7 linked regions of the Homo sapiens genome follow. The protein of the gene in region 2 purifies or fractionates together with the protein of the main gene of each other region. This does not show direct contact. Each region holds a gene or a part of one and is shown on either strand. Other genes may lie near its edges. The genes, in order: DNAJC18, ADCY9, SMIM20, ALG5, TMEM143, SMTNL2 and NFXL1.

Region 1 (3,500 bases), on a different chromosome or scaffold from region 2:
CAGGAGACTGCCTCAGTATTTTTGAGTCTCAGCACCATGACTACCCAGCTGTTCCTTTAAACATCAAATCGGTGTTTTCTACAGCAAAAGGTGAAATGAAATGTTAGTAATGTATCAGCAAAACCTTCAAGTCTTTCACCCCCAGACTGTTACTGAGAAAGATTTAGAAATACCAGACTTACGATTTATAGAACAGACTATATGGGGGATTAGTAGCCAGCAGCTGAGTAATGACAGATATAATCACAATCACAAGAACTGGAAGTAGCTGAATAAATGCAGAATATGTAGTCTGAAAAAGAAAAAAAAATAAAAACTTGCTGTAAGTGTTCTTTTTTTTTTTTCTGTCGCCCAGGCTGGAGTGCAGTGGTGCGATCTCGGCTCACTGCAAGCTCCGCCTCTCGGGTTCACGCCATTCTCCTGCCTCAGCCTCCCGAGTAGCTGGGACTACAGGCACCCGCCACCACGCCCGGCTTAGTTTTTGTATTTTTAGTAGAGACAGGGTTTCACCGCAGCCAGGATGGTCTCGATCTCCTGACCTCGTGATCTGCCCACCTCGGCCTCCCAGAGTGCTGGGATTACAGGTGTGAGCCACTGCGCCTGGCCTGTAAGTGTTCTTTATCAATATAAAGCTTATTGAAAATAAGATAGTTGCTCCAAAGAAAATAACAAATTATCAATGCACTGCATAGGAGGATCCACAAAGCCCCAGGCTTTTCTGGGAAGGCTGTACTTTCAGCTGAGAAGTACAGGTTGGGCAGTCCTAATCAGAAAATTCAAAATCACAAATGCTCCAAAATCTAGAACTTTTTGAGTACCAGGATGACACTTAAAGGAAATGCTCATTGGAGCATTTTGGATTTCCTTTTTTTTTTTTTTTCTGAGACATGGTCTTGCTCTGTCACCCAGGCTAGAGTACAGTGACACAAACATGGCTCACTGCAGCCTTGACCTCCTGGGTTCTGATGATTCTCTCGCCTCAGCCTCCTGAGAAGCTGGGACCACAGGTGCACACCACCGTGTCCAGCTAATTTTTAAATTTTTGTAGAGACAAGGTCTTGCCATGTTGCCCAGGCTAATCTCAAACTCCTAGGCTCAAGCAATTCTCCTGCCTCAGTTCCCCCAAAGTGTTAGGATTACAGGTGTGAGCCATAGCACCCAGCCTCAGATTTTCAGATTAGGAATTGTCAAATATATAATGGTATAATGCAAATTTCCAAAATCCAAAAAAAAAAAAAAATCTGAAATCTGAAATACTACTGGTCCAATTTACTTCAGATAAGGGATACTCAATCTATACCAAATAACCTTTACTCTCTCTGCTGAGCAGGCTGAAGGAGGTCCAACAACAACCTGGATTGACACCCAGTAATCCCCCTGCAGCCCCATTAATAAGACCAATGAAGCAAACATCTCTAGGTAAACCTGCCCAGACTGTGCCTCTTACAGTAGTGGGGCTCTAGGAGCCAGGTTAGCATCATGCTTGGCCACAGCTGATTGGACTCAGGGGACATCCAACTCTGGCAGAGGTAATCACGTTTTCTCTCCTAGGAATTTGGGGTTGAAACTCATCACCCTTCACTTCTGGGTCATCACTTTAAGGAAGAACACACACTCTCAGGCACTGTAGACTGGCTATTTGCAAGGGGAAGTAGAACAAGCAAAGCTGCTTGGTGAAAACAAAACAGAGGCAAAGAGTGGCAGGAAAACTGGAGACAATCTGGGCCCAAAGAGTCCTGCAGAGCACAGCTGCTTGGGAGCCTGACAGTATCCCAGTTCCTTGTTCCTGTCTGTCATGAGGCCCAGCTGTGCTTCTTGTCCTTGAGCTTCATGAGACTCTTTTGATCCCTTACCTTAAACCCCCTTTAGTTCTAAATATTTTGAAGAGGATTCCTATTTTCTGCAGCCAAGAAAATTATGAAGCCGGAGCGGTGGCTCATGCCTGTAATCCTAGCACTTTGGGAAGCCAAGGCAGGAGGATCACTTGAGCCCAGGAGTTTGTGACCAGCCTGGGAAACATGGTGAGAAATAATCTCTACAAAAAATGAGCTGGGCATGGTGGCACGCACCTATAGTCCCAGCTACATGAGAGGCTGAGGTGGGAGGATTGGTTGAGCCCTGGAGTTTGAGGCTGTAGTGAGCTGTGTTTCTACTATTGTACTCCGGCCTGAGTGACAGTGAGACCCTCTCTCAAAAAAAAAAAAAAAAAAAAAAAAAAAAAAAAAGCCTTGATGAAGTCAGCCCCACAGATTGCTGAGATTCTGGGAGAGCCACCCAAGAATGGGCAGAGGGAGGGGATACCATTCTGCCTATTTAGGCCAATTTTCCAGCTCTTCTAACCATTGCTTTTGCTTTCCTAAAGCACATCTTTCCTAAAGCAACATATCTCAGGTTCAACTTCTAAAACTTGACCATGTACCATCAAGGTTGGCCAAGTACAACTGTTTATGGGCAGCAGTGCTCCTCCCTCCCTAGGTACCTGAGGTTTCTCTTCTTCCTCCTCCTTCTGAGTCTGTGTCCTCTCATGTCGGTGCCGTCGACGGTAATAGTAAGTGTCATCTGTCACATTTGAAAACATATGAATATTTCCTGGAAAAGAAATACATGGTATGGGATATGGCAAACACTCCTTCCCTGCCTTTTTCTTTTTTTTTTGGAGATGGAGTTTTGCTCTGTTACCCAGACTGGAGTGCAATGGGGTGATCTCGGCTCACTGCAACCTCTGCTTCCTGGGTTCAAGCGATTCTCCTGCCTCAGCATCCTCAGTAGCTGGGATTACAGGCACCCGCCACCATGCCTGGCTAACTTTTGTATTTTTAGTAGAGATGGGGTTTCACCATGTTGGCCAGGCTGGTCTCGAACTCTTGAACTCAAGTGATCCACCTACCTTGGCCTCCCAAAGTGTTGGGATTACAGGCGTAAGCTACCGCGCCTGACCCTTCCTTGCCTTTTTCAAGGTCCTTGTTCCCAGCTAGGTTTGTTAAGGATAGAGTATTGGCCTATTTTACCCAGTAGAAAAATAAGACAATAGGCAAGCCAAGTGAACCAGCTGGAGCTAAAGCGTGCTGAGCTCTCCTGACTTCATTTAAATAGTCCTTTGCAACTAGTGAGAGAGAACCCCGAAAGGCTAGAAGAGAGAGAGCATTAGGGCCGTGAATCCTATCTGGCATGTTCACGTCTGCTTCCGTGCCCAATACCATATTGTGTCACTGGTATCTTTTAATAGCAACTCATAAAATTCAATTTACTTCCTGGGCATTGAATTATACCAACTTCCAACTTGCTGGGGGGTACTTTCCTATCTTCTATCTTTGTAAGTGCTATTTTACACAACAATAATAGGCATTTTGTTACTTATTTATAAGGCACTTAAAAATATCTAATCCTCACAGTGACCCTGTGAAGTAGGTATTATTAACAGCCCCATTTTTCAGGAGAGGAAACAGGGTCAGAGAGACTAAATGATTTGGTCAAAATTATGCACAGCTGGGGGCTGGAGA
Region 2 (3,500 bases):
GGCTATGGGACCACAGCCACCTGTTCAGCCTTGCTCAGCGTCAGCTCTTTGGTAAAAGGAGGATAATCATCAGCTTCCCTACAGCATTGCTATGAGCATTAAATGAGACGATATTTTGCCTTACGGGCCACCAACCAGCCAACTGCCAACTTGCAAGTCCACTCCGGGAGCCATGTCTGGGACATTAACGGATATTCACTGTCCCTTGGAGGCTGACGGAAGGGGGCACCTCCCACCCCACGAGGCATGAACTGGCTCTACTGGGCTCACCAGGGTCTCTCTAGAGCCCAAGCCAGGACACCACGGAGTTTAATGAAGACCTGCTGGAGGAACCAAGGGAATCAGAGTGAGAAATCCCTTTTGTTCCGGGTGGGGAGGGCATCCACTCTTGACTTGGGAACACTCAGAGGTTAGGTTTGGGCCCAGAGGAGAGAATGCAGTCTGGAAGCCGCCAGGATTCAAACCAGGCTCTAGGTTCTTGTATTATTCCTTCCAGCAACCCCCTAAGGAGCACTTGTGAGCGCTGGGACTCTGCTGGAGGCTGTGAGGAGGGGCTGGAGGAGAGAGATGGGTGTTGGGACTGTGCTGGAGGCTGTAAGGAGGGGCTGGAGGAGAGAGACGGGGGTCCTACCTCACAGAGCTGAGCATCTAGGGAGGGAGGAACACGAATCCAGAACCACACACGGAAAGATTCCAAAATGGGGCACACACGGAGAAGGAAGTGTATGAAGGGAAGTACAATCCAGTCTGCAGTCGGGGAGAGCTTCTTGGAGGAAGTGGGATTGGGTGATGGGCTGAGAAGTCAAGTACAAGGGGTTAAGGCGGTGGGGGCGGGAGAGGGAACATGGAGCCGGAGTTAGAGAGAGAGGTGAAGGCCTCCTGGGCCCTTCTCAGGGGAAGAAAGCAGGGAGGGCAACAGAGAAGAGTCTCACCCAAGACTCCAGGACAGGTGGGACGGGGGCTCTTCCAGGGCAGGTCGGTGGGGAGTTCCCTTCCAGGGCAGGTGGGGGGTTCCCTTCCAGGGCAGGTGTGGGGGATTCCCTTCCAGGGCAGGTGTGGGGGGTTCCCTTCCAGGGCAGGTGTCGGGGTTCCTTTCCAGGGCAGGTGGGGAGGGGTTCCTTTCCAGGGCAGGTGGGGGACCCCTTCCATGGCAGGTGGGGGGGGTTCCTTTACCAGGGCAGGTGTGGGGGCCCCTTCCAAGGCAGGTGGGGGGGTTTCCTTCCAGGGCAGGTTGGGGGTTTCCTTTCAGGACAGGTTGTGGTGGGGGGGCCCCTTCCAAGGCTGGGGATAGCCTGGAGATGCCACGGCAGAGGAAAGGGGCTAGTAATGGCGAGGCTGCGCTTTAAGACAAAGGACTAAAGAAAGGGTTTTTTTCCTCCTTTGCAAAGAGACATTTCATGTACAGTTGCCACTTAGGGTTTACAGAGTGTGGGAAATCAATGTTCGCCTTCGTGTTCCCATCCCTTGGTAAAGCACAAAACTAACAGTGAATGACCATGTGAGAACAACAAACACATTCTTTAGTAAAAGCGCAAGGAGAAATGAACGCACCTCTTCCTGATAGCTGGTCCTGTAGGATCGCTCCAGCTCCTGATCCAGGAAGTTCAGGCTGAACTGATTAATGGGCGGCTTAAAAAAGTAATCTTTCATCAGGCTAGAAGACACAACAAATGCAGTCGATCAATACCCAGCACCATAACTGTGCCAATGTTTTCAGATCATAATTAGCTACCAAAACGCTGCTCATTAGGTATATTACAACAGCTGCGTCTAAAAGCGCCTGTGGAACAGACGCCACTCAGCTGCCCCTTGTTAAAACAGATCTGTGGAAAGTCCTTCGCACCTCAAAGCATAATCATATTTTGTGTTTCACCTTCGTTAAAGAATGACCATCCACCATGATTATAGCACACATCATCAGAACCTTGGTTTTTTGGGGTTTTTTTTTTTTGAGGCAAGGTCTCACTCTGTCGCCCAGGCTGGAGTGCAATGGCGCAGCGATCTTGGCTCACTGCAATCTCCGCCTCCCAGGTTCAAGCAATTCTCCTGCCTCAGCCTCCTGAGTAGCTGGGATTACAGGCGCCTGCCACCGCACCCAGCTAATTTTTGTATTTTTTAGCAGACGCGGGGTTTCACCATGTTGGTCAGGCTGGTCTCGAACTCCTGGGCTCAAGAGATCCACCCATCTCGGCCTCCCAAAGTGCTGGGATGACAGCGTGAGCTGCTGAGGCTTGTTTTTGAAAACACATTCCTAATGTCTAGGATTAGGAGAAGATGAAGGCAGCTTTTCTGTTCTTTGAAACAATCTTTTGTGAAGAACACGCAGATCACTGTGCTGAGAGTACTTACATGGATTTGGAGGCTTCAAACGAAAACATAATTCAGAACCGGCGGTCCTGTCATTCAGAGCACTGACAGTAATTGCCACCGTAAAAGCTAACAGGTTGTTATCACAAAATTGTGTTTATAGTTAGCGTAATTTTGGTGCTATTGTCACATATGCAGATTGCATGTGAAACCTGCAGAATGATAAAGCTCAGTGATTTTAATAGCAGGGAAATCAACCCCGCTTTCCATGACTCTTTCATTCATTTATGAATTGCCAGCAAATAGTAATATCCTTTCTATACTGCAGAAAATTACTAGAAACTAAGGGAACGTTAACATGATTTCAGAAAGCAAATATAGCTGTGTTAGCCTCTCTCCCTCATACAGTGACTATCAGAAGTAAATTAGACGAGGCTGGGCGCGGTGGCTCATCCTTGTAATCCCCAGACCTTTGGGAGGCCGAGGCAAGCGGATCACCTGAGGTCAGGAGCTCGGGACCAGCCTGGCCAACATGGTGAACCCCCGTTTCTACAAAAAATACAAAAATTAGCCAGGCCTGGTGGCAGGTGCCTGTAATCCCAGCTACTCGGGTGGCTAAGGCAGGAGAATCACTTGAACCTGGGAGATGGAGGTTGCAATGAGCCAAGATGGCGCCACTGCATTACAGCCTGGGTGACACAGCAAGACTATGTCTCAAAAAAAAAAAAAAAGAGTAAATCAGGTGAAATATGTCAAGTGCCTCATGTGCCCCCCACACAAAGTACGGCTCATCACGTGTGTTCCTTCCTGTCCTTGCAGCACGGCGGACACTCTCCTTTCTGTGACAGGTATCCAGTAACTTCCAACATTCTCAGACTCAGAAGAGAAATAATTCTGTCCCAGGACACTGACCCTCTCTCCTCCCCTGACTCAGGGAGTGTGGACTGAGGGAAGAGCAACCACGCAGCTGCAGAGAGGATGTGCACAAGGCCACATTTTAGCAGTCAAGTGGCAGAAGCGACACTGCTATTAGCTGTGCTGCTCCATTTATTTCTTATTTGTTTTTTGAGATGGAGACTCGCTCTGTTGCCCAGGCTGGAGTTGCAGTGCTGCGATCTCAGCTCATTGCAGCCTCTGCCTCCTGGGTTCAAGCGATTCTCCTACCTCAGCCTCCTGAGTAGCTGGGATGACAG
Region 3 (3,046 bases), on a different chromosome or scaffold from region 2:
GTGGCAAATAAAACACTGGGCAATGGGGATTATGGGAATCCTGATATCCAAGTCTAAGAGGGATGGAGAGAACACATAGGATACTCAGGCCTATTCCAGGCAACAAGCGGCCTGATGGTTTCACTGCTCCTCTCTGAAAAGTAGCGGATGAATGGCAACCAAGATTCTCTCAAGATATATCAAAAGATTTCTTCCATTTAGAGTGGATATTATGGAGCCTCTAAAGTGTTAGACTTTCTGAAATAACACAAAAGGTGTCCTCATTTCTTAAGACATTAAATCATTGTAGAACTGAGCCCCACCATCCTATAGACATGTAAGTCTCAAAGTATGGATGTCTCGAACATGCTCTTGGAAGATACCAACATGTAAAAGCCCACAGTCATCAGTCTTGGCAGGAACAAAAATAGAATTAATTTTCTGTATCTAACTAAAAGGTCTATTTTCTGATACTATGGAAGAGGGAAGATTTGAGTTTTAAAAAATCACTATCAGAAAGCATTCTAGACTTAGAGATTTCATAAAATCAGACATCCTGGTGTACCAAACACATTGTCCAGAGGCAGGTACTGCAAGGCAAAAGAAGCTGGCAGACTGCCAAGCATCAAAGGAAGCTGACTTTTGGTGGCAAGGACCGAATGCCTAATTGGGTTCTAACCTCTTATGATGCAACGGAGAACCAAATGAAAAGAAAGAAATCCCTGTCTTCACACTTTCTTGCTAATTGCTAATGAGGCTGAAGCAAGGCTGAAGATTTATTTTAAATAGACCATAATCTCTTTATAATCCTTGTCCTAATGCAAACACCTCTGTAGTTTGGCTTGGTCAGGAAATTTAAACCACTTTGCTGAGCCAGTTCCTACCAAATGATAACCAGGTATTAGCATCCTATCTACATCCCCTGGTTCTTTAATCCATTAATGTTTTATAAATACTCTAAGGCCAAAGCAGTCTTATGTAAATTCATGATGTAACACAAAGACACTTTATCTGTGAATGCAGAATACTCTAAAAGGAAAACAGAAACGAGTCCCTCACGATTTAGCAGTGCATCTTGATTGAGGTTGACAGTAAGCTTCTATTTCCCTATCTTTGGAAAAGAGCAAATGTATATAAACCTCAGGAAAAGGGAAATGGCAGAAGTCAGGGGTTTAACTATGTAAACAAATCAGGATAAACTTATTACCAATTTCACTAGTGAGCACATTTCTATCAGGAGTGAAATAATTTAAACCCAAATATGGCACACCGGGTTAAAAAACTCCCCACTCCAGTGTCTCAGCAAGCCCGACTCTGCCCCCTGGTGCTAAGGCAGTGGTGTGATTTGTAGTTTTAATTGAGGACGTTATCTCTGGTCCAGGGGCCAAAGTGTATTATTAAAACTAGTAATACATGCAGACCGGCTGATTTTTTGTACGATAGTAAAAGAATCTACCTAATAATGTTGAAGTCTTTAAAAACAAAAACATATCCTTATATTAAATGTCCACACCGGAAAATACATCGACTGTGTGACTTGTTACTTGAACATTCACAACAATGCAAACACTGCAGGATACTCAAGCCCCAGCTCCCTCAGCAGTCTCAGGATTATTCGTTGAGGGTGCTCTAGTGGAGGACCAGCAGACAGAAACCTAAAATAAAAAAGCAAATGAAAGCTGGTGCAAGGTATGACCTTGGGAACCTACCTCCCTATTTCTTCCTGCCAATAAATACTTAAAAGCAACTCTGCCGGGCGCAGTGGCTCACACCTGTAATCCTAGCACTTTGGGAGGCCGAGGCGGGTGGATCACCTGAGGTCAAGAGTTCAAGACCAGCCTGGCCAACGTGACGAAACCCCATCTCTACTAAAAATACAAAAATTAGCCAGGCATGGTGGCGGGCGCCTATAATCCCAGCTACTTGGGAGGCTAAGGCAGGAGAATTGCTTGAACCTGGGGGTCAGAGGTTGTAGTCAGCCAAGATCATGCCACTGCACTCGAGCCTGGGCGCAAGAGCAAAACTCTGTCTCAAAAAAGAAAAATAAAAAAATAAAATAAAATAAAAGCAACTCACAACTTGAATTGTGACAAATGGCAAAATTTGAACGTGGGCTGTATATTCCATACAAGTTGAATATCCCTTATCTGAAATTGGTTGAGAACAGAATTGGTTTGGATTTAGGATTTTTTTCAGATTTTGGAATATTTACATATATATATAACAAGATATCTTGGGGATGGGATCCAAGTCTAAACATTAAATTCATTTGTTTCACATACATCTTATATACATAGACTGAAGATAATTTTATACAATGTTTTTAATAATTTTGTGCATGAAACTAAATTTATATTAAGTACTTATGTGTGGTATTTTCCACTTGTGTCATTTTGGAACTCAAAAAATTCCAGATTTTGGAGCATTTTCCATTTTCAGATTAGAAATGCTCCAACTGTAATAGCACTGTATCAACGTTAAATTTCTTAGATTGGAAAACCGCATTGTGATTACATAAGAGAATGCCCTTGTTCTTCGGAAATACAGGCTGAAGTGTTTAGGAATGAAAGCTCACAATGTCTTTGACCTACTCTCAAATGGTTCAACAAAATAACAGTAATAATTATAATATATAGTACATATAACTATATCTGTATATATGTATGTATCTGTATGTTATATATAGGGGGAGAAAGCAAATGTGGCAAAATGTTAACAACTGGTAAATCAAGGTGAAGGACAATATAGGAATTTACTGCACTGTTCTTGGATCTTTTGTCAGTTTGAGTTTCTTTTGTTTATTTATTTATTTTTTGAGAAAGAGTCTTGCTCTGTCACCCAGGCTGGAGTACAGTGGCGTGATCTCGGCTCACTGCAACCTCTGCCTCCCAGGTTCAAGTGATTCTGCTGCCTCAGCCTCCCCAAGTTTGAGTTTCTTTTTTCACTAACAAAAACCACATAACTGTACAACATGCATACGAAAAGTCCAACACCATTTTGACTCTTCCATGGTGATTATTTCAAAGAAGCTATCTTTTAAAAAGTAGCAAATATAAAATTTTTTTCA
Region 4 (2,552 bases), on a different chromosome or scaffold from region 2:
TTTGTAATTGCTATTAGTTCTTGCAGTATCTCAAAGAGGCTTCTGATGTTACTATGTAAATATATTAATATTATAAAATTGATTGACAGGAACTCCCTCCATCATCCATGCTAGAGTGCAGTGGCACGATCATAGCTCACTGTAACCTTGAACTTCTGGGCTCAGGTGATCCTCCCACCTTGGCCTCCAGTGCTAGAGATGAGTAAGACTATAAGGAAATGAACACCTTTGTGACTAAGTCTGTATTCTTGCCTTTAACATATAATTTCCTAAAGTTTCATAGGCTGAAATAGGTTTCTTTGATTTGGATAAATTTATGTACATTTAAACTTATACCCTAGCTTTATTTTTAAATCTCTGAAAACTGTTACATGATTGTAGTTTATAGTTAAGTTCATGAGAGTTATGCAGGCACTTTAGGGTAAGAATAGCTTCTGTCTACAAAAATTATGTTTCTCAGAATTATAATGATAATGAAGCTAAACAAACAAAAGAAAATCTGACTTTTTAAATAAACATCTTTTAAAAATCATTTATATCCAAAGAGATATATAATTTTTTACTTATGGAAAGTTATTTCTTTAAAATTATCAAAAGGCAGACAATGACAAGAAGTTTATTTCAGCTTTACTTAAAATTTTAGTTTCAAATGAAATGAAATGTGACACTGAAGCATAAGAACACAACTGAAGACTGCAAACAACCTAATTCATTTTCCGAGTTTGCTCAAGCCTCCAGGCACCAGTCAAATATCGAAGTCGTATAAAAAGTAGGTCTTTACCCATTTGTAGCCAGCTCCAGAATGGAACTAATTTAGAACCTGTGATTTAAAAATAATTAAAAACAAATTAGCTTAAATAAACTCAGCAGAAAACGTATCAGTTTAAAGTCAGTCTACATGATCGTTGTGAGCCTTTAGCACCTTAATTTTTTAAATCATGGACCAAAAAGTTAAACAATTTCAAAGCTGAAGTGAGTGGAGTGGTTTTCTCTAAAAACAAAAACAGAACATCTTGAAGTGAAATGAAACTTGAGAGGATCTAAATAGTGAAAATTTCATACGGCCCTACTATAGAAAGGAAGGACTACATATGGTGAGGGCTCTAGAAGTCTAATAAAAAAACTACTCACTGAGTGCTCATTACTGAAAATAATTACATATGAAACAACTAAAGATACAGCACAACAGATAAATATGATTATTTCTACATAAATCCAATCTTAATGATAAAAAATAAAGCCTATGATCAGACTTAAGATAATTTTGTCCAGACCTCTTTGTCTCGGGCTACACAAGAACACCAGCCTAATTAAATATCTGATCCACATATCACAGCAGATTCTTTTTTTGTTTTTTTTTTAAACAAGATCTTGCTCTGTCACCCAGGCTGTAGTGCAGTGACACGATTATGGCTCACTGTAACCTTGACCTCCCGGGCTCAAACGATCCAGTCCTCCTACCTCAGCCTCCCCAGTAGCTGGGAGTACAGGAGGCACGCACCACACCTGCCTAATTTTACAATTTTTTTATAGAGATGAGGTCTCACTGTGTTGCCCAGGCTGGTCTCAAACTCCTAGGCTCAAGTGATCCTCCCAACTTAGGCTCCCAAAGTGCTGGGATTACAGGCATGAGTGACTGCACCCAGCCACAGCAGATTCTTATAACCATTACTTATAGTATATACGTGCAGATAAAGTATCAGGAGGAAGGTTTAACATTTCATTATCATTTTAATTATACTTTATATTTAAAGAAGACCTTTTTCACTGCTCTGAATTTATATGACAGCTTTCTTCTGAAAACATTACCACCAAAGCACTGTAGAGACATTATCGTTTATCAGGGCCAAAAATTATCTTCATCCCACAAATGAGGAAGTTGAGGTACCTACAATTCATATTACAAGACAACTATCTCTGTAATGCAAATAAGCAAATGACTAAACATAAAATGGACTTTTACTTTTCCCCACCTCATCTTCCCATAGAGTCTAGGTTGGCCAAAGATCAACACAAATCAACAAAGTTGATCATGATACCCCTGAGTGATCCTTTGACCTGCTTCCCAATCCCCTTTGATTCTAGGCAGCTACTGTGGAGATGAGCTAAGATTTTGTAAACTCAGTTTGATTCAGCAAGATGTAAAGAGGTTTGAATTCATCCTAGACTATACAGTTTGTATAATCTCGAGATTGGTTCTTAACCTTTTTCTGTCCCTAAACATCTGAGGTTACAGAGCAATAATGGTTTACTGCAACAAGGACTCTCACCAGAAGAGCTGGACTTCGAAAAAGTCTCCAGTTGATTATGTTAACTGCTCCCACACTGTGAATTAATTTAGGTTCATTCTAAGGTAAGGAGAAAACTAGAATATGTTTAAAATTCTATACAGCCAGAGCTGTCTAAGCCTTTTAAAATAGGAATTATTAAGATTTATGATAGATTTCAAGTTATTATAGAGTTGGGATCTTTATACTTTTGGATATATGTACAGATATAGTTTTTAAATGGCTCTGGATTGACTGTGGACATTTGGAGTAAAAACACTTTTA
Region 5 (3,500 bases), on a different chromosome or scaffold from region 2:
CTTGAGCCCGGGAAGTGGAGGTTGCAGTGAGCCAGGATTGCGCCACTGCACTCCAGCCTGGGCAACAGAGTGGGACTCTGTCTCAAAAAAATAAATAAATAAAAATACAAAAATTAGTCAGGTGTGTGTCATGTGCCTGTAATTCCCGCTACTCAGGAGGCTGAGGCAAGAGAATCTCTTGAACCCGGGAGGCAGAAGTTGCAGTGAGCCGAGATCGTGCCACGGCACTTTAGCCTGGGCGACAGAGTGACACTGTGTCTCAAAAAAAAAAGCGGTCGGGCGCAGTAGCTCACGCCTGTAATCCCAGCACTTTGGGAGGCCGAGGCGGGTGGATCACGAGGTCAGAAGATCAAGACCACGAGGTCAGGAGATCGAGACCATCCTGGCTAACACGGTGAAACCCTGTATCTACTAAAAATACAAAAACAAAATTAGCTGGGCGTGGTGGTGGGTGCCTGTAGTCCCAGCTACTCAGGAGGCTGAGGCAGGAGAATGGCGTGAACCTGGGAGGCGGAGCTTGCAGTGAGCTGAGATCGCACCACTGCACTCCAGCCTGGGTGACAGAGCAAGACTCAGTCTCACAAAAAAAAAAAAGAAAAAAGAAAAAAAAGAAAACCTGTACCTGTACCCAGATTCCTCCATTCAGCCACAAAATGAGCTCAGGGCCACTGGACCCTGTAGCTGGCAGGCCTGGCTGCCTGACCCACTAAACCCTTACCGGCTGCCCCTGGTAAGACCTAAGTCCTCAGTCAGCACTGTCTGTACAACAATGCCAATGCCAGGGAGGGTTCAGGAAGTCAATACACGGTTAATAAAACATTGGGACAGCCGGGCGCGGTGGCTCACGCCTGTAATCCCAGCACTTTGGGAGGCCGAGGCGGGCGGATCACGAGGTCAGGAGTTCAAGACCAGCCTGGCCAACATAGTGAAACCCCGTCTCTACTAAAAATACAAAAAATTAGCCAGGCATGGTGGCGGCGCCTGTAATCCCAGCCACTTGGGAGGCTGAGGCAGGAGAATGGCTTGAACCCAGGAGGCAGAGGTTGCAGTGAGCTGAGGTTGCACCACTGCACTCCAGCCTGGGGGACAGAGCGAGACTCCATCTCAAAAAAAGAAGAAAAAAAAAAAACATTGGGACAAAGCCTGGCCCCTCAGAAACACTTACCAAACATCAGCTACTATGGAACAGTCACCCACACCCTGTGCTGGGTGCCCATAGGGTGTTCCCATCTCACACCGAGGCCTGAGGTGAAATGCCTCTCAAGTCAGCGCACCCCAGAAAATCGCTGAAATGGCCTGCAAGGTACCAATGACACGCTTGCATGTGGACTGTACCCTCTTCTCACCAGGCCAGCACAGTCAGTTTAGGTGCCTGCATTGGAACGAATCGCCATTTCTTCGGTTGAGGGCAAGATGCAGGAATAGCATGCGTTAGGGACCGTGTGGTATGAAAAACACATTGGGTTTGTGTCAGTATCTGCCAAGCCGATGGAGCTGAATTCTAGTTAAAGGAGCAGGTCACTCTGTGGCACACAGATGAAGCCAGAGTCTCCCTGGAGAGGGGTCCCCCTGCCACCCGGAGGGTCCCTTCAGCACTACCGCTGCCCACAAGGAATACAGCACTCGCTCCTCCTACCCTGGGGTCTATGTCTTGGGCAGCCCCTCCACCTACTCAGTCACAGGCCAGGCCCCTGGCACCATCCTTGCTCCCCCTTCGCCAACCTGTCAGTCCCAACCCCATTCTGCAGTCCCCTGACTCTCTCTGCCCGTCTCCTCCTCTGCAGCTCCCCAGCTCATCCTTGGCTCAGACTTTATCCCCGCCTGCATCACTCCAGCCTCCTCCCTGGCCTCAGTCTCCCCGTCCAGTTTGTCTGCACATAGGTTCAGAGCTGCCCCTGCCCCTCCCCTGCTCATGGTCCTCCCATGGCTCCCCAGTGCTCTCAGAGTCCAAGCTCCGTGGCCCGGCACACGAGGCCCTCCCTGTCACCTCCTGCTCCTCCCCTGTGAATGCAGCGCATGCTGAAAAAGCCGGTTTACCCTGAACAGGTCCTGCTCTCTCAGGCCTCCAGGCCCAGGCACAAGCCAAACCACCCCTGGTGTGTTCTTGGAAAATGTTCACTGCCTCATCCTCAAGGCTCAGGATGGACATCACCTCTCGCGGACGAGCAGATGCAGCCTCGGGCTCCTGCTGTGCCAGCTGCCGCCTCCATTACAGACCGACTGCCTGTGTCCAGGGACCCCACACCTCTCCCTCCAGGGCAGGATCGGGCTGCTGCATCTCAGGGGCACCAGTTCAACATCCCTCCCCAGGCTGCCCCATGGGCCTGCTTGGTGCTGGGCTAAGGGGCTTCACAGTAGAGCCCAGGGTATGGAGGAACCCACAGGGGCACCACCCCAGCCTGGGACATCCGGGAAGGCTTCCCAGAGCAGGCAGCCTCTGAGCTGAGGGTGAGGGGTGAGCAGGGGTTGGCCAGCCCAACAAGAGGAAAGGGCATTTCAGTCCAAGGGAACAGCACAGGCAAAGGCAGAGAACGAGGGATGGCAGGGTGGGGGCGCCGCAAGCATGCAGGAGGAGCTGAGGCGCAGATTCGAGGGGAAGGATTGTGTCCAGTGAGGCTGGGAAGCAGGGTCCCTGGTGCCAGGCTGTGCCCAGAGGAGGGGCAGGGCAGGACTGGGTAGAATGGGGAATGGGCTGGAAGGGACCAACTGGAGGCTGGGAAGAGGGCCTGAGCAGGGGGCACAGAGGTGGGACAGGAAGGGTGGGCTGGGGGTCTAGCCAGTGACTGGCGGGATGACAGGTCATCCTTAGATGCGGAGCCCAGAAGAGAAGATGTCAGGGGAGACGCTGTGCTTGGCCTACAGTGAGAGTGAGGGCCCCAGCCGGGAGGCTGAGCCTGGAGCTTCTTGGTTGATCTGATCATGGACAGTAGAGAGCTCCTGTGGAAACCACAGAAGCAGAGCAGCCCTGTGTCTTGGAAGAAAGAGGGCCCCATACTCCGCATCCCGCACCTTGCTCCCCGCACCCCTTATCCCGCAGTGGGGCTCTGAGTGCCTGTTCCAAGGTGAGATGGGGAACTTGAGAGGAGCAGGAGGGTTGAGGCAGCTGGACTCTGGGCTCATGGGGACACGCTGCACATGGGCTTGGGTGTGTCCAGGGAACAGGAGAAGCCAGATTAGGGGACTAGGGGAGGGGCTTGCAATGAAGACAGAGATCTGGGAGCAACTGAAGCGCAGGAGGGGACCAGCCAGGAGGGAGTCTGGGAGGGCCAACTGTTTTTTTGTTTCTTTGTTTGTTTGTTTGTGTTGGGATGGGAGTCTCGCTCTGTCACCGAGGCTGGAATGCAGTGGCGCAATCTCAGCTCACTGCAACCTCCACCTCCCGAGTTCAAGTGATTCTCCTGCCTCAGCCTCTCAAGTAGCTGGGATTTCAGGCATGCGCCACCACGCCTGGCTAATTTTTGTATTTTTAGTAGAGATGGGGTTTCACTACGTTGGCCAGG
Region 6 (3,500 bases), on a different chromosome or scaffold from region 2:
AAAGGGTCCCTTTATTAAACTCTCCTCGCCCAGTTCTTGACTGTGCCCCCGTCCGCCGCTGGAGCCCTGGCAGACAGACCTGACTTTGCCAACTCTCCTGAGGCCCTCGGCCAAAAACCAAATCCCGAACTGGCTTTCCAGGTGCCTCCTGACCCCAGAGCCACCCCCAAATCTTCACCCTAGAGGTGGGACCTAAGAAGCTAGGCAATTTCACAATAAATGCCAGAACACCATTTCGGGAAGGAAAATCTTATTGGAAGCAAAAATCTCCTTTTAAGTGGCCCAGGTCATATCCAGTTCCTTGCTAACTGGCAGCTGTGGCTCATGCAAGCAACGGCATCTCTCCATCAGTCCAGAGAGGACAGATTCAGAGCTTTGGGGGACCCTGTCCTGCTGCCCTTCATGCCTGGTCTGTGGCTGGTCTCCCAGAGTGCACCTCAGAAGCTGGGCACCTAGCAAAAAGGGCAGGTCCCCAGGAACGGAGTCCCCCTCCACCACTGAGTGCTGTGTGACTCTGGGAAAATCCCTCTCCAGGCCTCAGTCTTCCCATCTGCACAAGAGGTACACAGACCACATGGCCCCAGGGTCCTTCAGCTTTGCAGACAGCGGCCCGACATCCCACTCGCCCCCATGCCCCACCTGGGGAAGAAGTTGGGCTCAGGGACTGGGCTGGGGCTGGTAGCCAGCAGGAGCCACCATACTCACTCGGCCATGGTGAAAGCCAGCTCGAAGTTCTTCTGCCTCTGCGTGGGGCTCAGGGAGTTGTAGTCAAAGGCATCGGGGAAGAAGGAGTGTACCAGGGCGCAGAAGGCCATGCCGTCGCTCCAGCTGGAGGAGAAGTTCTGCAGGTCCACGTGCTGCAACAGGGTGAGTGGGGTCAGTGCGGGAGGGCAGCTGGGCACCCACTCGGAAGGCATAATTACCGTGGTTCCTACCCCTTAACCCCAGCCTCAGCGGGCTCCTGCCCAGGCGGGAGAACAAGGACAGGGGCGACGCTTGGTCAAGCTTTTAGCTGGGGCGTCCCAGCAGCCGGAGGGGAGCCGGGGCTCACCTGGTAGCCCAGCGTCTTGCTGCGGCACCACTCGAGCAGGATCTGCTTGATGCTGCTGGCGCTGGCCACGCCGAAGCTCTGCGACCGCTTCAGCCTGGCCCGGGCCTCGCCTTTCCCCCTGCGGAGAGACGGCAGGCCTGCTGCGGGGGCCCCTCCAGCTGCCATCTCCCAGTGCGGGTCTGGGGCAGGGGAGGCTGTCCTGGCACCACCAAGGAGGGTGCTCCCACCTGCTCTGCTCACCCAGGGGAGATGCTGGTGGCACACGTGGGCTCAGCTGTGCCCACGTCCACGGCACAGCCCATGTACCAGCGACACAGCCTCCTTTGATGGTATGTGGCAGGACCGTCCACACCCCTACAGCCCTCCAGGTCCCCTGTTTATTCCCCATCCAGGAAGCAGGGGTCACCTGGGAATCCTGAGACAGAAGACCTTGGCTCACATGGCCCTGGGCCCCTGCCTTCTGCTTTGGAACACCTTTCCCAGCTCCTTCCTCCCACTCCTCCTTCTGAGCTCCCCTCTTAATGGGGTGCCTCCTTCCCTGATGGCTCTTTCCTAGCCAGGAGGGATGAGTTCCTCTTCTGGGCCCCAAGGACAGTCCCTAATGGCCTAGGCCAGGTTGTTTGGGGCCAGTGGGGAGATGTCCGGGGTCGGTCCCCCTCACTAGAGTCGAGCAGGGACTGGCTGTCGTCTTCATTATCCCACAAGGCCTGGGCCACACCCTGCACACAGCAGGCATCAATACCACGCTTGGGCCACACTCTGCACACAGCAGGCATCAATACCACGCTTGGGCCACACCCTGCACACAGCAGGCATCAATACCACGCTTGGGCCACACCCTGCACACAGCAGACATCAATACCACGCTTGGGCCACACCCTGCACACAGCAGGCATCAATACCACGCGTGGGCCACACCCTGCACACAGCAGACATCAATACCACGCTTGGGCCACACCCTGCACACAGCAGGCATCAATACCACGCGTGGGCCACACCCTGCACACAGCAGACATCAATACCACGCTTGGGCCACACCCTGCACACAGCAGACATCAATACCACGCTTGGGCCACACTCTGCACACAGCAGGCATCAATACCATGCACTGACACGAGGACTGGCTGAATATGCAAAGGTGGGCTGGAGCCTGAGGAGCCGTCGCTCGAGACCTAGTAGCAGGCTGGAGGCCACTCGGCCCCGTGGCATCACCTTCGGTCCTTGGGCAAGACCAACCCCATGCTGGGGCTCCCAGCTCTGGCCAGGAATCCCAGTCCCCATCCAGTCCCCGGTCATGCCCAGAAACCAGAGGAGCCACAACCCCTGGGGAATGTGGGTGTGAGGGCAGCCTGGCGGCACCAGAGACAGGACAGGGGGCCTCGGGAATGGAGGAGGAGAGAGGGGCTCTCACCAAGCCTTCCTGGCTCCCTGCCTCACAGCCATCTCCCCCAACAACTGGGGTCCTCTGTCCCCCCAAGCTGCCCTGTGGCCCAGCCCTAACTTTGTGCCTTGCCCAAGAGATCTTGTCCTGGGCAACAGCGCCCTGGGGAACAGGACAGGGCTGAACCTTGCCCTGCTGCACCCACCCAAGCCCCGTCTGGGTCTGGGCACACCGTGGGGCCGGGCCTGTCTGTGAGTGGGCATCCGTACTTGCCGGCCGCCGTTTCCTGCTCCCACTTCTCAAACAATGCTTTCCGGGCCTGCGCCTCCGAGGTGCGGGGCAGCGTCTGCGACCTCACCAGCTCCCTGCGACGCTCCCCCTGCCGATGGACCTGAGTTATGGCTGGCGGCTGCGGGGACACGGGCGACTGGGGTGGTGTCACCAGCGGTGGGCTGAGGAAAGAATCGCCGAGTTGGGACCTGGGCCCAGCAGCCATCACTAGCTCACCAGGCCCCAAGGTCTCCATTGCACTGAGTGTGGACAAGGCAGCCTGCACCGTGATGGGCGCTCAGAGAAGAGGCCCCCTTGCTCCGGTCCCTAGCTGGTTTGACAGGTTTTCTGAATTGTGCTGGCTGGAGGGACTGGCCAATAGGCTCAACTCAGGAGACGCTGGGCCCGATCTGGACATAACCACCCCTTTGCAGGTGTCAATGCCTGGGGAGGACAGAGGGACCCCCTCCTCAGGCAGGAGGTGTGCTCAGAACCAGCCCCGGAGGGACCAGGCCTCCTGCCTCCACCACCATGCGATAAGACCCCCTTTGTTTTCCCCAGAACGGTTTGCCAGAAAGTCACAATTCTCCTTTTATTATTAAAGAAAAAAAAAAAAGCCAAGCCTGCTACCCTACCCCCATCCCCAATCACAGTCCCGCTGGCTGGCTGGGGGGAGGCCTGTGCCACAGGGAAGGACCTGCTCACCTGCCCCTGCTCGCAGCCCGTGGGCAGGAAGTTCCGGGCTCTGAGGGACCCCAGCTGGCTGGGATGGAAGAAGACAAAGCTCCTGTCCTCTCC
Region 7 (3,500 bases), on a different chromosome or scaffold from region 2:
TGGCAAAAATATAAAAAAACAAAATCAAAGAAATCTTTAAAGCAGGCTATAAAGTTCGCTCCAAGAGGTTCTGTCATCATCTTAAGGGCTTTCTTCCACTCTAGTTTTCCCAGTAAGGAACTCTATCAGAAATGAAATAATAAAGGAAGAAGAGTTTTCAATGAAGAAATGAATATCTTAAAGAGACTGTTGCCTAGGTGTCAGGACCAAGCAAAACATGGACCGGGAGTTAACCTGATAAAAAAAAGATTAAAGATGGACAATATCCTGGCTTAAGTGCCTCTAGAAGTTCAAAATAGTTCCCTAAAACAAACACAAATTAAGAATTATAATTCAAATAATGAACACAGAAAAAGAGAAGATTAGAGGTAAAACATCGTAGGGTCAAACATAACATTTATTATACAAAACACCAAATGTGTTTTGACACATATATTCTTGATGTTAATGCAAGTCAAGTTATCCTAACCCACATATCAAGTTTTATTTTTATTTTACCTAAAGAATGACTACAAGTTGTATTTTTAAAGTTGATAGTGATATTTAAGTCGGTTCTCATTCGGCATATTATATCTGTTTCTATACTTAACAATGACAATTTTTCATTCATCTTCAGCAGAGGAACCTTTTTGTTATCAAACGTAACCTTTTTGTTATTCTAAACAACAGTATCACATTTAAATTACATCTTGAAAATAAGGGACAATTTCTCTAAACAGTCTCCCTACTGACCAACAGAATTTATTATAATTAAAAGAGCTTCCATAATACTTTCAAAATGAAGAAATAGCATAGGGAGACTATAACTATACTGACCAATACCAGTTAATAGCCAAAATAGGCATGATTCGGGTAGTTCTAAAACTATAAACACAGATGATCCTGAATTTAAAAAAAAAAACTATAAATCGGCTGGGCGCTGTGGCTCATGCCTGTAATCCCAGCACTTTGGGAGGCCGAAGCAGGCAGATCACGAGGTCAGGAGATCGAGACCATCCTAGCCAACATGGTGAAACCCCGGCTCTACTAAAAATACAAAAATTAGCTGGACATGGTGGCATATGCCTGTGATGCCAGCTGCTCGGGAGGCTGAGGCAGGAGAATCACCTGAAATGGGGAGTCAGAGGTTGCAGTGAGCCGGGATTGCGCCACTGCACTCCAGCCTGGTGACAGAGAGAGACTCCGTCTCAAAGAACAAAACAAAACTATAAATCAAATTTTCACATACCCACAACACAAACATGCAGTTAGTATATTCCCCCTATAAATTACTGTATAATTCTGATTATGAAGGATTCTAGAATGATGGAAAAATGGTATGAAATTATGATTCCACATTCTTTTATAACTGTAGATGAAACAAATATTGACAGTTGCACAACAGCATCTTCCACATACTTTACATCAAGGAAAATTTTGTTGTGACTAATAAGCTTTTCTAAGGATTAATAGAAATCTATAAAAACAAAACAAACAAAAAAACACCACTCTACCAAAAAATATCAAAACCTGAATCTGATCAAACCTCTAGATCCAATTAACAGGTTATCAAAAATATAGAGGACAGAGGAACATGTTAAATAATACCACAGAGATGCAATCTGCAAAACTCAGACTCTGAGAAACTAAATAAAGCAACCTAGTTTCTTCAACAAATAAGTCATAAGGGGAAAAAAGGAGATAGAGGATGGAAATTATAAATTAAAAGACTTTAGAGACAAAACCAATTACAACATGTCAATTTTATTAGGTTTTTGAGTCTATAAACTGATGTAAAAAATGAAGTTACTTATGAGACAACAAGAAATTTGAAAACCAGATGTTTGCTGATATGAAGAAATATGTTAACTACATTTAGGTTAAGAATCCATCTTTTAGAGACAAATACTGAAATATTTATGGGCTTTGCTTCACAAAAATATGAGACAGGGAAATGCTTCCAACACTTCTCCAGTAAGTATGATATTTGCTCTAAACTTTTTGCAGATACTCTTTATCAGGTTAAGGATATGTCTATTTCCAATTAAATTTTTATCTTATATAGATGTTAGACATTTATCAAGATGATCTCATTCCTCCTTTGGTCTTTTAATGTGGTAAATTACATAATATTAGATTTACTACTGTTAAACCAGTTATATCACAGAGATGTAGTTTGCAAAAATCTGCAAAAACTCAATGGGTCAGTGATGTAATGACTATAAAAGAAAATAAAATCTTTCTAGTGTTGGTGAGAGCATACCTGAAAAACTATTTCTAAACTTCACTGACAAATCAAAGAACACCTACAGGAAATGTCTACAGGGTAAATAGAATCTGACACTTTTCCTAATGGGGAAGGAATGTAGTATAATGGAAATAACATAAACACTGGGTTCACATCCTGACTCTGCGACTAGTTCTATTAACCTTGGGCCAATAGTCTCCCGGCCTGTTCCACATATCCCTATATGCTGCAGGATTTCTGAAAGGATAGGGAGATCAACTGAGAAACAGTTCAGTAGTTTGTTCTAGGTATTAAACTACTAAATGGCAGAGTCTAGGCTTAAATCCAGGATTTCTTACTCTAAGTCCACGATCTTTCCAATACTGTATACCATATCTCAGTAGATTCCATTTCATATCAACATAATCCAAATGAGTGAAGTTAACTCAGTTTTTAATGTCTAGTAATAACTTATAACATAATTCTCAAAGTATAGTCCAGGAACCCTAGTGGTTCTTGAGACCCTTTCAGGAGGTCTGCAAGGTCTCACATGCATAGTTTTCCAGAAGCTAGTGAAAAGTGATGTCCATAGCAGACTGAATACAGAAGCATATATGTGAATCCGGCTATTTTCTGTTAAGCTAGACATTAAAGACATTTGTAAAAATGTAAAATTTTCTACTTTTTTCAGAAAATAGTTATTTTTCATAAAACATTATTTGTATTAAGATATAATGGGTTTATTACTGCTATTTTTAAAAAATAATAAATATTATTACATTTTATTTTAATTTCAAATACAATAAATGTCAATGAATAAAACTCACATTAACAAAAGCCCTTTGGGGACCAAAGGATTGTAAAGGGGTCATGACATCAAAATGTTTAAAAATCACCAGCTTCGGACATATCTAATCCTTTACTAGATTTAACTACAAATAAGTATATAAAATTCAGAATAAATAAGGTGTTCAAAATGCTATGAACACCTTCATTGATTAAAAAATTATGTGGGGAAAGTCAGGAAGTGGGAAAACAATATGGTGTTATAGAAAGGACAATACTTTTATATACAGAAATCCTGGGTTCAAATGTACTAGACATTTCCCTGAGTAAGTTACTGAACCCTCTTAAGCTTCAACCTCTTTGCCTATAAAATAGAGACACTGGCAAACTGCCTTACCTTCTTCTCCAGGTTAAGAGAGTCAAGTGAGATAATGACTATAAAACGCTATTTCAATACATTATATTGAATATTGACAATGAAAAAAAAAACCACTACATCACTACAAAC

The links.
Region 1: the proteins of ADCY9 (region 2) and DNAJC18 purify together in Homo sapiens (affinity purification with mass spectrometry; one large-scale study listed by BioGRID and IntAct). This does not show direct contact.
Region 3: the proteins of ADCY9 (region 2) and SMIM20 purify together in Homo sapiens (co-immunoprecipitation; one large-scale study listed by IntAct). This does not show direct contact.
Region 4: the proteins of ADCY9 (region 2) and ALG5 purify together in Homo sapiens (co-immunoprecipitation; 2 studies listed by BioGRID and IntAct, with this or other methods). This does not show direct contact.
Region 5: the proteins of ADCY9 (region 2) and TMEM143 purify together in Homo sapiens (affinity purification with mass spectrometry; one large-scale study listed by BioGRID and IntAct). This does not show direct contact.
Region 6: the proteins of ADCY9 (region 2) and SMTNL2 purify together in Homo sapiens (co-immunoprecipitation; one large-scale study listed by IntAct). This does not show direct contact.
Region 7: the proteins of ADCY9 (region 2) and NFXL1 purify together in Homo sapiens (co-immunoprecipitation; one large-scale study listed by IntAct). This does not show direct contact.

What each region holds. Positions count from the first base shown.
Region 1 is NC_000005.10:139,422,526-139,426,025, forward strand, and holds part of DNAJC18 (dnaJ homolog subfamily C member 18), read right to left. Parts: intron 2,590-3,500; coding exon 2,480-2,589; intron 293-2,479; coding exon 183-292; intron 1-182.
Region 2 is NC_000016.10:3,987,443-3,990,942, forward strand, and holds part of ADCY9 (adenylate cyclase type 9), read right to left. Parts: intron 1,655-3,500; coding exon 1,552-1,654; intron 1-1,551. UniProt on the Homo sapiens protein: Adenylyl cyclase that catalyzes the formation of the signaling molecule cAMP in response to activation of G protein-coupled receptors.
Region 3 is NC_000004.12:25,924,220-25,927,265, reverse strand, and holds part of SMIM20 (small integral membrane protein 20), read right to left. Parts: intron 1-3,046.
Region 4 is NC_000013.11:36,949,238-36,951,789, forward strand, and holds the end of ALG5 (dolichyl-phosphate beta-glucosyltransferase), read right to left. Parts: intron 821-2,552; coding exon 705-820; 3' UTR 501-704; downstream 1-500. UniProt on the Homo sapiens protein: Dolichyl-phosphate beta-glucosyltransferase that operates in the biosynthetic pathway of dolichol-linked oligosaccharides, the glycan precursors employed in protein asparagine (N)-glycosylation.
Region 5 is NC_000019.10:48,336,441-48,339,940, forward strand, and holds part of TMEM143 (transmembrane protein 143), read right to left. Parts: intron 1-3,500.
Region 6 is NC_000017.11:4,594,529-4,598,028, reverse strand, and holds part of SMTNL2 (smoothelin-like protein 2), read right to left. Parts: intron 2,885-3,500; coding exon 2,702-2,884; intron 1,170-2,701; coding exon 1,052-1,169; intron 858-1,051; coding exon 706-857; intron 1-705.
Region 7 is NC_000004.12:47,887,084-47,890,583, forward strand, and holds part of NFXL1 (NF-X1-type zinc finger protein NFXL1), read right to left. Parts: intron 1-3,500.